Homo sapiens: one gene and its partner. The protein of the gene in region 1 binds, or shares a complex with, the protein of each later gene. Each region holds a gene or a part of one and is shown on either strand. Other genes may lie near its edges.

Region 1 (7,738 bases):
ATGCTCCCCCTAAACCACTCTTCCCCTCCCCACTACTCCCAGGAGAGCACTCCCATGAGCCCAGAGTCACCACAGTCCTTGCAGCATTCCTGCTGGGGCCAGGGGTAGGAGACAGATCACAGCCTGTCCATCCTCTATAGACAGGCCCTCCACACGCACAACACGGCACAGGGGACCAACAGGGGAGCCCTGTACTGGTCTGAGGGGACAGTCTTGGCCCCTGGGAGGCCCCAACCCCGCTTCTGCAGAGCCTTGGCAGTGACCACCATGGAAACCACCACAGGCTGAGCCAACCTGCCCCTTCCCCTCAGGGGCACTCCTCAAGCCCCACTGAGACCATGGTGCTGGCCACGTCCTCCTCCTTCCACGTCCTCCTCCTTTCTGAGAGAATCCAGACACATGCATGACGCCAAAGGGAATCTCTGTTCTCCCCGGCACACGTGAAGGCAGACGCTCCACTCAGGCTCCACAGCGAGGGGTGACCCCCAGGAACCCCTCGCTGCTTGCAGAGACCCTCACCAGGAGGGTCGCCAGCGCTGGCTCAGGTGCCTGAAGACTTGGCCACAGAGGCTTAGGAGAATCTGCTTTTCCAGAGGTAGGCAAAACCAGTGAGCTGCCTCCCATACCTCCAGCTCCTCGTGGCAGAGGCCTCTGCTGTCCCAACACCACGGACTGCGTCTATTCCTAGCTGTCCCCAGGGTGCCTGGTGTGTGGACACCTCCTGTGAAGACCACCGCCTGCTGGGCAGTGCCTCCCTCCAAAGCGCCACACTTCACTGACAGGAAGCAAAATGATTTTTCAGTGACTGACTCGCAAAACAAATATTCTCAGCTGAAGCCCAAGGCATACTCTGCATCTAGCCCTGCCACGTCAGGGACGCCTGGCCTCGGGGCCCAGGGGGATCAGGGGCACCCACAGCAGCCTTACCCTGATCTATTGGGCCTGAGAAAAAGCCCTCAGGGAGCAGGCTTCCCTCTGTGAGTCCCGAAAGGAAATCCCAGCAGACTTCAAGAGCACTTCTTAAGACAGACCCTCCAGACACTGGGTATCTTTCTCTGTATCAGACAGAAATCCTCATTGTATGTTGAAACTAGATTGCAATTACCTACAGAAAGGAATAGGAGAGAAAATGTGGTCGGCCAAACCTCAGACCCCCTGCATCTCCAGGGCCTCCAGGTACCCACTCAACCCTGGATTCCTGGGGAGCTGTCAGCACAGCCACCCCCCAGCCGGCCCCGTGAGCCCTGCAGAGGTGACACCACAGCCTGCAGAGAGCGACCCTAGTGCACCCGGGACGCCGACACGCGTCATTACTGAGGTGGGGCAGAAGCAACAGTTGGTTACTCACCAGATCAGAAACGAACCTGTCATTTTCCCCTCGACAGCAAAGTCCTGAGTCGCCCTAACGACAAGCAGCCCCTGGAAACCCACTCTCTCCCAGGGAGCCGTGAAGCTCTTCATCGCAACACTTTCTACAAGGGGAGAACTGAACCGAAGGCTTCACGGCCACAGCAGCTCCATACCCTCAACATGCAACTGGGACCCGGGGAAAGTAGGCCCTCAGCAGGGCAGGGCGACCCACGACCTCCTCTGCTTCACCGCTTCCCCCCTGGGCCGGTTCTGTCCCTGGCCCTTCCACTGGGACAAGCATTTCCACTGGGAGGGATCCGCGGGGGCACACACGTAGCTTCTCAAGGAATAATTCCCTTAAGTACATCGAAGAGCCCTGCGGGCCACAGGCGGGGAAGGCTGCCCACAAGACGGCCGCTTCCATCTTCCCACCGCCCGCCCAGGGAGAAGCCGGCCACGCGCCGGGCCTCTCGGTCAAGGCCACAGGGGCCGCGGCCGCTGAGCTGTGCGAAGTTGTGTGCAGCACACAGCACTCGGGACGGCGCTGGGCCGGCCAAACAAAAACATCCGCCGATTCCACTAACTACACAACCACCTGGCGACAGACCCTCAAAAACAGACACGGGCGGCCGCGCTTTCTGGGGAGACGGGGCCGCACCCCGCGGGGCAGGGGGTCCCGCTGCTACGGATTCTCAGAACTCCCGCGTCCGCTCACAAGAGCCGCGTTTCCCGTGAACTGCGCCTCAATCGTGTCACTCGTTTTAAAAGGCCCGGGGAAGCCTCGCGTTCGTCGCGAGGCGTCTCCCTGCAAACGCCCGGGGAGGCCGCGGTGCCGGTTCCCAAGCCCGGCCGCCGCAGGCCGCGCGGCTCCTGGGCGATCTCGGGGCGCGTCCCTGCTCACAGGGAGTTCCCGTCTTGGCAGAGCTCGGCGGGCCTGTCTGTTACATAAGGGGCGGCCCGGCCGGCTCGGCGGCTGCCCGAGGCCCGACCCGACTCGAGCGCGGACTCCGGGCAGGCGCCCGCGGCCCAGGCCGCCGAGACCCACAGCCCGACTCGGCCTCCCTCGACTCCCCGGCCTGACCTACCCGGTCTCCCCGCCCGGCCTCCCCGTCTTCCCGCCCGTCTCCCCGGCCGCCCGGCCCGACCTCCCCGGTCTCCCCGCCCGGCCTCCCCGGCATCCCGGGCTCCCGGCCCGCAGACAATGCGGAGCCGCCGCCGCCGCCGCCGCCGCCAAACATGGCGTCGGCACCACAACCCCGAGAGGCCGGGCCGAGGCGGCGGCGGCGGCCGGGCGGCCCGCGAGGCGGCGGGGAGGCCTCCCCGGCCAGGCCCCCGCCCACTCACCTTCGGGGCGCCGCGGCCGCGGGAGCCCGGCAAGCGGGCGGGCGCGGGGGCCGGCGCGGCCGAGGCGGTGCTAATGGCGCCCGCGGCTCCTCCGCCAACGGCCGCGCAGGCCGGGCCCCGCCGCCGCTCCTGGGCGCGGGCCCCTCTCGGCCGCGGCGGCTCCGGGCCCGGCAGCGGCGGCCGCGGACTCTCGGGCAGCGGCTCGCGCGGCGCGGGCTCGGGCTCGGGGCCCAGCTGGAGGCCCGGCTCGGGGGGCCCGGCCGGCGGGCGCGGGCGCGGGCGCGGGAGCGGGCGGCGGGCGGCGGGCGCGGGACGCGGGGCTGGCTCGGACTCCAGGGCCGGGTCGCTCGCTCGCTCCCCAGCGAAGCAAACAATGCGGCGAGCGCTCCGCCCGGCGCGCTGCGTGCGAGACGCGCCCCGCCCGCCGCCGCCATGACGCGCGGACTCCGCTGCCTCGGCCGCGCGCGGGGGAGGGGGCGCCGCGAGGAGCGGGGGCCAAAGGGGGCCCTGAGGCGGCGGGGACCGGGCTGGGAGTGGGGGGTCGGGAGGATGGAGAGTGGGGGCCCTTGAGTTAGGGAGGACCGGGCCAGAAGGTCCCTGAGGGGGTCAGGAGGATGGAGAATGAGGGGCCCTGAGGCAGGGGGACGTAGGCCTAGGAGTGGGGGGCCCCGAGGCAGGTGGGGAGCAGCCGGGAGTCGGGGGCTTTGAAGCAGGGGGGTACCGGCTGGGAGTGGGGGTCCCTGAGGCAGAAGGGCATTGGCCCAGGAGTGGGGTCGCTGAGGCAGGAGATGGCCCAGGAGTGGGCGGCTCTGAGGCAGGGGCTACCACCGGCCTGGAGTGGGGGGCCCACAGGCGGGGGGACGGGCCGGGAGTGGGGGTACCTGAGGCAGAAGGACATTGGCCCGGGAGTGGGGGGCCCCGAGGCAGGATGGGGGAGCAGCCGCCAGTCGGGGGCCCTGACGGGGGAACGGCCAGGAGTGGGGGTCCCTGAGGCGGGGGGGACCAGCTGAGAGTGGGAGTCCCTGAGGCAGAAGGCCATTGGCCCAGGAATGGGGGGCCCTGAGGCAGGGGGCGATTGGCCCACGAGTTGGTGGGGGCCTGAGGCAGGGGGCGATTGGCCCACGAGTGGGGGGAGGCCTGAGGCAGGGGGCGATTGGCCCATGAGTGGGGGGCCCTGAGGCAGGAGGCTATTGGTCCGGGAGTGGAGGTCCCTAAGAGGACAGAGGGGGCCCTGCGGGGGCACTGGGTGGGAGTGGAAAGGGCACTGGCCGGGACACGCGACTAGGTAGAGGTGGGTGGTGCAGCCGGGCTGGGGAGCCTCCCCTAGTGAGTGTCAGGCCCGGTGTGCAAGTAGTCCTGCCAGTGTGAGGGCCCTGCCGAGGCCGGCGTGAAGCAGATGCCCTTTAAGGTTGCAAGAAAAGGCCCCTGCGGGTGGGAGTTGAGAGGCCTGAGTCTCTGCCTTCACTTTGGCCTTTTGTGTAAACTCTAAAATTCAGTGGGGTCATAACAATTTTCACTCCAAGATTAAATCCCAAATGTTTTAAGGTGAGGCAGGAGCTCCTTGGTTTCCTTGAGAATTTGTGATCAGGACGATGGTGCTGTGGAATCCCTGGGTTCCAGCAGCACAGCCTGTGGCATCCAGGCAGGCCCCTCAGGAAGAGCAGCTGTCCACCCTGGGACAGACCGTCCCCACGGGGGCAGCCGAGCGGCCCCACTGCTCGGGGCACTGCACCAAACACCTTATTGGGAGTGGGGTGGCCTTGTTCGCCCAAGTGTCCCTGATAGGGGCCAGGCCCCACAGGCCTTTTCCTGGCCAGTCCTCATGCCCATGGCACCCAGTGTGTGGGTTGTGACGTGACGACTCAAGGGCAGGTAGGACCCCAGCCAAGGCCCCAGTGGTCAGTCCTGATCTAGGACTCCCTGCAGACACACCCTTGAGCTTAGGGGGTACAGGCCACTGGGGCCCTGACCTCTTCTGCACCAGACCCAGGAGCTTCGTGTCACCTCCATTCTACAGATGTCTGTTTACCTGTGGCCAAACAAGCAAGCTGAGCCCGAACGCTTCTCTCCTCCACCTCAGGGAAGCCAGATGGAAACCAAGCTGGAGGTTCTCCACAACACAGAGCAAAAGTAAGACACAGTCTCATGAAAGAGAAGATGAAAAGACACGAAACCCTTCACAGAAGAGGAGACGGGGACAGTGGCCTCTCAGACAATGCAGGTGATGCTCAGAGGAGTGAAGAACAAAGCCTCGAACGTAGGCATGTCACAGGGATACTCAGGAAGGCCTTCGGAGAGGATCTTCTTTAGAATTCAGACTCATCCTACAGAGGAGGGGTTGCCAAAATACTAAGAGAATTGAACCGTAACTCATACACAGTGAAACTAGCGTTCCAGTGAGACAGCAAAATAAAGGTGTCTTCACCGCCGGTTAACATCCACATTTACCACACACGCAGTCTGTAAAAGTACTAGAAGAAATACCTTAACAAAGTGAAAAGTGGACCCAAGAGTAAGACGTGGATGCCAGCAAGTAAATCAGTCTGGTCCGTTAAAAGAAAATCAACCTGAGAGAAATCCCGGATGAACTCAACATGACACATGGTAAGGCGGGGCGCAGAAGGAAGTGAAAGTGCACGAAAGCTCTTGTATTGTTTGGTTCGAGGATTTTAGAATCGATAGAAAAAAAGGTTAAAAATTTTAGCTGGGCATGGTGGCTCACACCTGTAATCCCAGCACTTTGGGAGGCCGAGGCGGGCAGACTACCTGAGGTCGGGAGTTCAAGACCAGCCTGATCAACATGGAGAAACCCCATCTCTACTAAAAATACAAAAAAAAAAAAATTAGCCGGGCGTGGCGGCGCATGCCTGTAATCCCACTACTTGGGAGGCTGAGGCAGGAGAATTGGTTGAAACTGGGAGGTGGAGGTTACAGTGAGCTGAGATGGTGCCATTGCACTCCAGCCTGGGCAACAAGAGCAAAACTCCATCTCAAAAAAACAAAAAAAAAAAGTTTTAACTATCAGAAAGTTTCCACAAGAATGGTGGAAAAAGAATTTACCACTTTCAGAACAGCTGAGGAAAAAGCGAAATGAAAAACGACAGCAGCAACAACAAAAAAAAAACAGGAATGAGTAAAAGATAAAATCATGATAAATACAGAACATAATATGAGTTGGCAGAACTAAGTTCAAACATTTGAGTAATCAGAGGAATGTGATTGGATTAAATGCATCTATTAAAAGACAACCTCTCTGAATGGAATATAAATATGGTGAAATATTCTTACAAGAAATTCACCTGAAAAATAACAGATGAAAAATAAAACGATGGGGCCAGGCACAGTGGCTCATGCCTGTAATCCCAACACTTTGGGAGACCGAGGCAGGTGCATCACCTGAGGTCAGGAGTTCAAGACCTGACCAACATAGTGAAACCCCATCTCTACTAAAAATAGAAAAATTAGCCAGGCATGGGGGCACGTGCCTGTAATCCCAGCTACTCAGGAGGCTGAGGCAGGAGAATCACTTGAACCCAGGAGGCTGAGGTTGCAGTGAGGCAAGATTGCCCCACTGCACTCCAGCCTGAGTGACAGAGCAAGACTCCATTTCGTAAATGAAAGGATGGAAATTATCATATGTTTGTTCCTCAAAAGGCACCATAAAGAGACTGAAGAATGAAAAACTAAAAGATATGTACACCTTGCAGATGATTAGTATTTAGAATATATAGAGAACCCCTTCAGATCCATTAGAAAGAGACAAACAAGCCAACAAAATGATGCACAAAACCCAAATCAACAAAGAAACCCATGTCATAATCAGGCTTCTTGCAGAGAACATGGAAAGGCCAATCATCTTACTAGTAAATTTGGAAATGCAAACAAAATACACACCAAATAGGCACCAGCGTTCATATGTGGCAATACTCAGCGATGGCAAGATGGCAGAGCAATACCCTGCTGGCCAGAATGTCGAGTGGGACAATTATTTGGTAAATATCTTGGTCATAAGGCGTTACCCAGTGAAAGTGGACATGTTTATCAGTTACCTCTTGCTGCAAAACAAACCACCCCCAAAACTTTGTAGCTCAAAACAGCAGTCATTCCTTTTGTTCACACATCTGCTATTTGGGCAGGATTCAGCAGGTACAACTAGACTACTTCCTGCATCCTTATCTGGGGCACCTCCACTAGGGGCTGGAGGAGCCACTTCCAAGATGGTGCACTCACGTGGCTGGGACCTTGATCCAGGCTCTGGGCTGAGGGCCTTGGGAACATCCTCATGGAATAGTAGCCATGCTGCAGGAGCAAGGGTCTCAAGAGAAGCAGGTGGGACCTGTATCACTTTTCACATCCTAGCTTCTGAAGTCACACGCATCACTTCTGCCATAGGGACAAGCCTGTCCAGATTCAAGAGTTAGGGAGAATACAGACCCCACCTCTTGGGACATGTGTTATCATCACATTTTAAGAGAAGCATGCTGTATGGGAGAAGTTGTTGTGGCCACTTTGAGAAGATGCAAGCTCCCCCAGTGTGCATACCCATTCCCGGCTGTAGGGTTAAGTCAATTTGTATTCCTAGGTGCATTCCGTGCCTGGGTGTGTGCCTAAGAAACCTGTTCATCAGGGCCGGGCGCCGTGGCTCACGCCTGTAATCCCAGCAGTTTGGGAGGCTGAGGCAGGCAGATCATGAGGTCAGGAGATTGAGACCATCCTGGCTAACACGGTGAAACCCCATCTCTACTAAAAATACAAAAAATTAGCCAGGAGGCTGAGGCAGGAGAATGGTGTGAACCCAGGAGGCAGAGTTTGCAGTGAGCAGAGATTGCGCCACTGCACTCCAGCCTGGGCAACAGAGCAAGACTCCATCTAAAAAAAAAAAAAAAAAAAGAAAAGAAAAAAAGAAACTTGTTCATCAGGAAGCATGTGCATGAATGTTCAGAGCAACACTGTTTTTGGTGTTTTTTTTTTTTTATTTTAACGCTGTTTTTAATAGCAAATACTGGGAGAAATCTTAAATATCAAAGGACGGTAAAATGGACAA
Region 2 (7,000 bases), on another chromosome or scaffold:
TCAGCACATGACCACTGAAGAGCCTAAGAAGCTAAATCCCAACAGAACACAAAACATTTCTGGATGATCCTGGGAGAGAGAACCACAGAACAAAGGATGTCATGAAGCTAGGGCACACTGACCTAGAGAGTTACAGCCTGGTGTAGGACACTTCATATTGAAGTTGTAGCTTTCATGGAAGCGACGGCGCTTGGGGCGATGAGAGAGATCACTGCCTGAGTCCTTCAGGGACATGTCCTTGGCAATGCTCTCATCGTGAGATACATTGGGGCTGGAGATGTCTATGTCAGACTCAGAAGAAGGCGCATTTCCAGTTGGAGTTCGAGGCGGTGACTCATCATGATCAGCTGTATTTTTAGTTTCTAAAGCAAAAGCAATTGGTAGAAGTTATGAGTGGAGTTCATTTATTTAGAAGTTTACTATTCAGAGTTTATGGGCTTCCCAGGTTCTTTTTCTATGATTTAACCAGTAACTTTCAGCTATTCATCTGCTAGATGGCTAAATGGAAAATGAAGAGGCACTTCTACACCATCCATTTTGTGCAACTTTAAATTCTGATTAAAATTAAATTTGTACTTCATCTATTACACCTATCTGTATTTCTCCTGAGTTGCTAATCATGGATAATCAAAACTAGATGGAAATACGTTTTTAAAACATTACTATCCCACTTCCCTTCCAGGAGATACACAGGACAGAAGATAAGTGACAGTGATTATCTTTCTGGATGACACTGAACAGGCTTGGTGTAAGATGTGAATGGACTTAGAGTCTTGAGTGAGCCTGTTTGTAGTCTAACAATTCAATCTTGAAATTCCAGACTCTAAATCAGGAATTGCAAACCAAATGCCTACAGGGGCTCAGCAAGGCCAAAGAGACAGCTCATTGTCCATCTAAAGGGGACAACTACTATTCAACTCCAGCCAATTATTACTATGGGTGATTGGCCGCCCAGTGTTCCCAGATCTTTTCATTGTTTAAAATAAACTATTAATCCAGGTTTTTATATGAAATCATTGTGTTTTCAAATACTAGCAACAAATTTAAAAAATTTTAAACACTGTGCAAGCAAACCAACCAACCATGCGGACAGCTAGAAGTAGTTCACCAGTCTGTGACCTCTGCATTAAGAAATTTGGAGATAAATGGACTGAGAAGTATGGCTATAAGAAAAGTCTGCTTCAAGCCCTTTTCAAATGTGGTTAAGAAGGGCCCAGTCTCTTTTTCCTATTACAGGTACGATTTAATATACTCCAGCTACTCTGGACCTTGAGAATATTCTGATATCAAACTGTCCTCAGCAATGTATAAGAAAGGAGGCTGGGCATGGTGGCTTATACCTGTAATCCCAGCACTTTGGGAGGCTGAGGCGGGTGGATCACGAGGTCAGGAGATCGAGACCATCCTGACTAACACAGTGAAACCCCGTCTCTACTAAAAATACAAAAAATTAGCCTGGCGTGGTGGCAGGCGCCTGTAGTCCCAGCTACTCAGGAGGCTGAGGCAGGAGAATGGCGTGAACCCGGGAGGCAGAGCTTGCAGTGAGCCAAGATTGCACCACTGCACTCCAGCCTGGGCAATAGAGCGAGACTCCGTCTCAAAAAAAAAAAAAAAGACATAAGAAAGGAAGCAAGCAAACAGCATTCATCTAGCTGAAGTATTAGGCATCTACCTGCAGTGGCCCCAAGCCCTCCTTAAAAAGAATTTCACCCAGATGCTCTGTAATAGGTCTAAGTCATACCATACCCACTCACCTCTATCTGAAAAATCAACCACTTGCTCAGTTTCTGAACCAGATGAACGAGTCTGCCGAAGAGGGTATTTTTTCGGTGTCACTGGGGTAGGCTGCTGCTGACTACGGGTCACTCTTCTGGTAGAGTAAGCAGGCTCCTCAGTGCCAAAAGACTGCAGATTTCGAACAGGACTGGAATCTGATCCCAATTTTAAAAGAAAATAAAGAAAAAAGATGGAAATCTGTTTTACTTCCTATCCATATAATTTATCAGAATATCGCTCCTCCTCCTCTTCATATTTCACAAAATCCAACAAATCCTTAAAATATCTATTTAATTAAATAAAATATAAGCAAAAGAGCCTAGCTCAGGTATACAGATGTAATGTAGTACAGCATTAATAAGTTTAGGTTCTGGAATTAGGACTGAACTTGATTCAACTCCACTCCACCATACCAACTAGCTGTGGCATCTTGGGCAAGTTATTTTCTCCAAGCCTGTTTCCTGACCTATTGAAAAGGAAAATACTAGTAGCACATTCCTCATAACACTGTGGTGAGGAATAGGTGAGATAATGCATGTGAAGCACTTAACATGATCCGTGGTACAGAGTGCTTTATAAATATTAACTGCATCCTCTCATTCTTCCCTTTTTCTAACCCACCATAAAACAGATATTCTATTACCAAAGATATAACAACAAACAAAACGATTTCCTTTCTTAAGGGGCCGATTTTTTTTTCTTTCTTATTACCCTCTCTGGCACTGTCATAATAGATTCATAAAGGTAAAGCAGGAATGCAGCATTTTAAGTTTTTTGGATAGAAAAACCTATTCTGAGGCACTCAGCAGCCCTTTTATATCTCCAACCTGAGGACAAAGGAAATGAAGGAAAATTCAAAGCTGAAATTAAAGCATTTTTAAAAAATATATGTAGATATGTTTTAGTTTTTTTGTGCTTTTTTTTTTATAAAGAGACATGTTTAATCATAGCTTGCTCTTCACAGAGATGACTACAGAGACTTTTAATCTATAATCCAGGAGTATATAACCATGCAGTACAGACCAATTAGCCAAATGTAAAATAAACTAGATTCTTACCACAACTGCCCTATAAACATTGCAACTATTCTTTGCAAAAGGACCCTACATCTTATGTGAAAACACCTAGTGTAGGGGAACCAGAAACCTAGCTATGTGGCCAAAAGTAAAAACCAAAGGAAAAAATAACAATTCAGTGGTTAATTGGTGAAAGCAGGAAATTTGTGCCCTTTACTGTGCTGCTGCTTTGGTCTTCTTACTTTTGTTCTTTTTGTCCCTTTTCTTCAGCCCATCCATGTTAGCACTCGGTAGGTTTGAATAAGCCATCTGAAACTTATTCACTTGGTTGGAGCTCACCACAGTGCTGACCTTCTTTTTCCCATCGATAGCTCTTAACAGACACTTGTCTGAGGGCTCAAAGCCCTCCACAGAACCTTTCTTTGGAACGGGTTTGGTTCCACCACCATACTTCTTCAAGGTGATATAGATGCTGCCCGATGTCCAGCACTTCTGGAAAAGTCTGGTCAGCTCCGTCAGGAACTGCTCACTCTCCAACAACACCATCGTGGTGATGCTGGCTCAATTCCCTCCGTGTAAGCCCCTAGCAGTCTTAGTTTTGTTTTAATTGACATGTAAGTGTACATATTTATAGAGTATACTGTGATGTTCTGATAGACGTATACATTGTGTAATGATGAAATCAAAATAATTAGCATATCCATATCTCAAACACTTGTCATTTCTTTGTGGTGAGAACAGTCAAAATCCTCTCTAAAGTATATTTTATTTTAATTAATTAATTTTTTTTTCAGAGGGCGGGATGCACAGGCCAGGGCGCGGTGTCAGCCTCACTCTCTCACGGCTGCACCCCCCAACGTATATTTAAAAAAAAAAAAAATCTGAAGAAATCTTATAGATTCTCTAAAGAAGAAAACTGAAAATTTCCAAACTTTCGGGTGAGAAAAGTTAGCACAGAGCAAGGTTATCCATTTGTACATCTCCAAGGGGCCTCCTTTCACAATATGATCTACCTTGTGCTCTAGGGAGGACCACCTTACATTGCTGACATTGTAAATGGTACCCCTGGAGTTGTGCAACTCTGTGGTCATGAGGTATGATAACCAGAAAGAGACTCAGTGCTTACGCATTTCCTAGCTGTTTTGAATATTTAGTTTTCAGGTGTCTAGGGCATGGTCAATTATACTTCCTACAAACATTATGTCTTTTCCTTAGCATATGCTGTTCCATCTGCCGAGAATAACATATTCCCATCTTTCAACTTGTAAATTCCTATCAGAGCCTTTAAGACATCTCAGTGTGCAGCTGGGCACGGCGGCTCACGCCTGTAATCCCAGCACTTTGGGAGGCCGAGGCGGGCAGATCACTTGAGATCAGGAGTTTAAGACAAGCCTGGACAACACGGTGAAACCCTGTCTCTACTAAAAATACAAAAAATAGCCAGGTATGGTGGTGCTCGCCTGTAATCCCAGCTACTTGGGAGGCTGGGGCAGGAGAATTCCTTGAACCCAGGAGGCGGAAGCTGCAGTGAACCAAGATCATGCCACTGCACTCCAGCCTGGGCGACAGAGCGAGATTCTGTCTCAACAACAACAAAAAAGACTTCATCATTGTGGGAGTGCTGCCCTAAGTTGGCTGTCCCACCTCTGGGCTTATGTAGTACTCTATGCAAACCCCTCTCACAGCCCTTGCCATAATGTATTCCCATGATCAATTTTCATATCTGTATCTTGCACTGAACTGTAAGATCTTTGAGGACAGGAACTATGATTTTTCTATCATGGTTCCTAGTACATAACATACTGCTTGAGTTATAGTAGCTATTTATCCATAGTCTCATTGTGGTAAAAATTTAAAGCTTAAGAAATCAAGAGACAATAGCAATACTTTAGCTGAAATCCTAAATTCAAAAATAAAGTTAGGAACAGTTGTTAAAGAGGATATTCCCACTTTCTTGCTTGAAAAACTGATGGTTTTTCTCTCATTGTGCAACATACTCATATAAAAGTGACCAAAGCAGCAGGGCGCGGTGGCTCATGCCTATAATCCAAGCACTTTGGGAGGCCAAGGCAGGCAGACCATGAGGTCAAGAGATTGAGACTATCCTGGCCAACATGGTGAAACCCCATCTCTACTAAAAATACAAAAATTAGCTGGGCACGGTGGCGTGCACCTGTAGTCCCAGCTACTTGCAGGCTGAGGCAGGAGAATTGCTTGAACCCAGGAGGCGGAAGTTGCAGTGAACCAAGATCATGCCACTGCACTCCGCCTGGCAACAGAGCTAGACTCCATCTCAAAAAAAAAAAAAAAAAAAATTAACCAAAGCAACACTGTTGAAGTGCTCAAAACATGTTAAAGTTTTTTTCCCTTCATCTATTATCACCTGTTGATCATCGGCTTTCTGTATTAGCTGCAACCTTCTTTCCTCCTCAGGGAATACCAGAGCAGAGCCAGGAGGGTCAAGGGTACCCTCCAAATCTAACCCCAGATGCCTAAATGCACTAGAGATAGTTCAAACTACCTTCCAACCCCAAGATTCTCAATTCCTTATTACCAAAGCAAAATTCCATTATTTCCACACTGATATTTTGGTACAACTATTAATATCTATCAAGTGTTTATTGGATTACATTCCAGAGTTAAACATGGTTTTAGAAGTGGGCCTCTGCCAAGAGTAAGTCCAAGAGACTACAGATGCTCCTTGACTTGTAATGGGGTTAAGTCTCAATAAAACTATCATAAGTTGAAAGTATTATAAGTTAAAAATGCATTTACAGGCTGAACATGGTGGCTCACATCTATAACCCCAGTACTTTGGGAGGCCAAGGTGGAAGGACTGCTTGAGTCCAGGAGTTTGAGACCAGCCTAGACAACATAATAAGACCTCATCTCTACAAAAAACAAAGAAAACTAGCTAGGCATGGTGGCGTGCACCTGTAGTCCCAGCTACTCAGGAGGCTGAGGTGGGAGGATCACTTGAGCCAAGGAGGTCAAGGCTGCAGTGAGCCAAGATCACACCACTGCACTCCAACCTGTGCAACAGAGCACAAGACCCTGTCTCCAGAAAATAAAAAAAACCGCTATACACCTAACCTACCGAGCATCATAGCTTAGCCTAGCCTACTTTAAATAGGCTCAAACCACTTACATTAGCCTACAATTGTGCACAATCATCTAACACAAAGCCTATTTTTAATAAAGTGTTGAATATTGCATATAATTTATTAAAGACAGTACACTGAAGAGTACTGGTTTACCCTCATGATCAAATGGCTGACTGGGAGTTACGGCTCACTGACTGGAGTTATTATGGCTCATTGCCACCACTCAGCAACATGAGAAAATATTTGGCCCACATATCACTGGCCCAGGAAAAGACCGAAATTCAAAATTCTAAAAGTTTCCACTGAATGCATATTGTTTTAGCACCACTGTAAAGTTAAAAAAAAAAATTAAATCAAGCCACCATAAATCAGATACCATCTGGACTTCAAGTCCCTAAGCCTCAAACATTCAAACAGAAAGTGAAGGGATAACATTCCAATTTTACTGATGGAGACACTGCGATCTAAAAAAACAAACAAACAAACAAACAAATGACTCAAGACATACGTGTGTCTCTATCCATTATACCATCCGCAGTTCCTTTGGGTCTACAGATTGGATAGTAGCCCCCCACAGAGGCATTGTTAAAGACCTGACAACTCTGCATTCACTCTACATTTTACCAATCATCTGGTGCACTGTCATCTACACCAAGCCAAGGGGCCAGTTTCCACATTAACTAGGAAAATAATGTGATGGGCCAGTCAGCCAGATGTGAGGAGTGGTAAGGAAAAATGAAGGTTTTTTTACCTTGAGAACTCTGGCTTAGCCTGGCTGAGGAGCGGGTGACTCGAGCAGATCGTCGGGATGTGCCATCACTTTCTGAACTGTCTGTGTGCTCGAGATCTGTAGAAAAATCGGAATCTTCGGTTCCATCTGAACTACTGCCTGCATTCCTCTGTAATACCATAGATCCAGATATTAGCACAGAAGCATTTGGTCTGAGAGTTTGCATTAACATTGAAAATAAAACAAGCTGTGACACTGAAAACCCCAAGTTCAAACCTAAATAAGGATTCCACAAGCATTTCTCATCCTCCCACCCCCTCAGGCAACTTCACTTTATTTAGAACACTTAAATGGAACAACCTACAAATAGGGAA

The links. Proteins that work in one complex are often made in the same cells at the same time.
Region 2: the proteins of BRD1 (region 1) and KAT7 are in contact, whole or in part, in a crystal structure (PDB 5GK9), measured with the Homo sapiens proteins. Residues at the interface, in XP_047297239.1 of Homo sapiens: Val40, Ile42, Glu43, Ile44, His49, Arg50, Ile51, Ser52, Ile53, Phe54, Asp55, Pro56, Leu57, Glu58, Ile59, Ile60, Leu61; in NP_008998.1 of Homo sapiens: Leu531, Phe534, Gly536, Lys537, Glu538, Ile539, Ser540, Ile541, Lys542, Pro552, Val553, Val556, Gln560, Leu565, Tyr567, Lys571, His572, Leu573, Val574, Leu575, Lys576.

Annotation. Positions count from the first base shown.
Region 1 is NC_000022.11:49,824,803-49,832,540, forward strand, and holds the start of BRD1 (bromodomain-containing protein 1), read right to left. Parts: upstream 3,072-7,738; 5' UTR 2,695-3,071; intron 2,456-2,694; exon of another isoform or gene 2,436-2,455; intron 1,784-2,435; exon of another isoform or gene 1-1,783. UniProt on the Homo sapiens protein: Scaffold subunit of various histone acetyltransferase (HAT) complexes, such as the MOZ/MORF and HBO1 complexes, that acts as a regulator of hematopoiesis.
Region 2 is NC_000017.11:49,791,681-49,798,680, reverse strand, and holds part of KAT7 (histone acetyltransferase KAT7), read right to left. Parts: intron 6,796-7,000; coding exon 6,648-6,795; intron 1,932-6,647; coding exon 1,755-1,931; intron 363-1,754; coding exon 123-362; intron 1-122. UniProt on the Homo sapiens protein: Catalytic subunit of histone acetyltransferase HBO1 complexes, which specifically mediate acetylation of histone H3 at 'Lys-14' (H3K14ac), thereby regulating various processes, such as gene transcription, protein ubiquitination, immune regulation, stem cell pluripotent and self-renewal maintenance and embryonic development.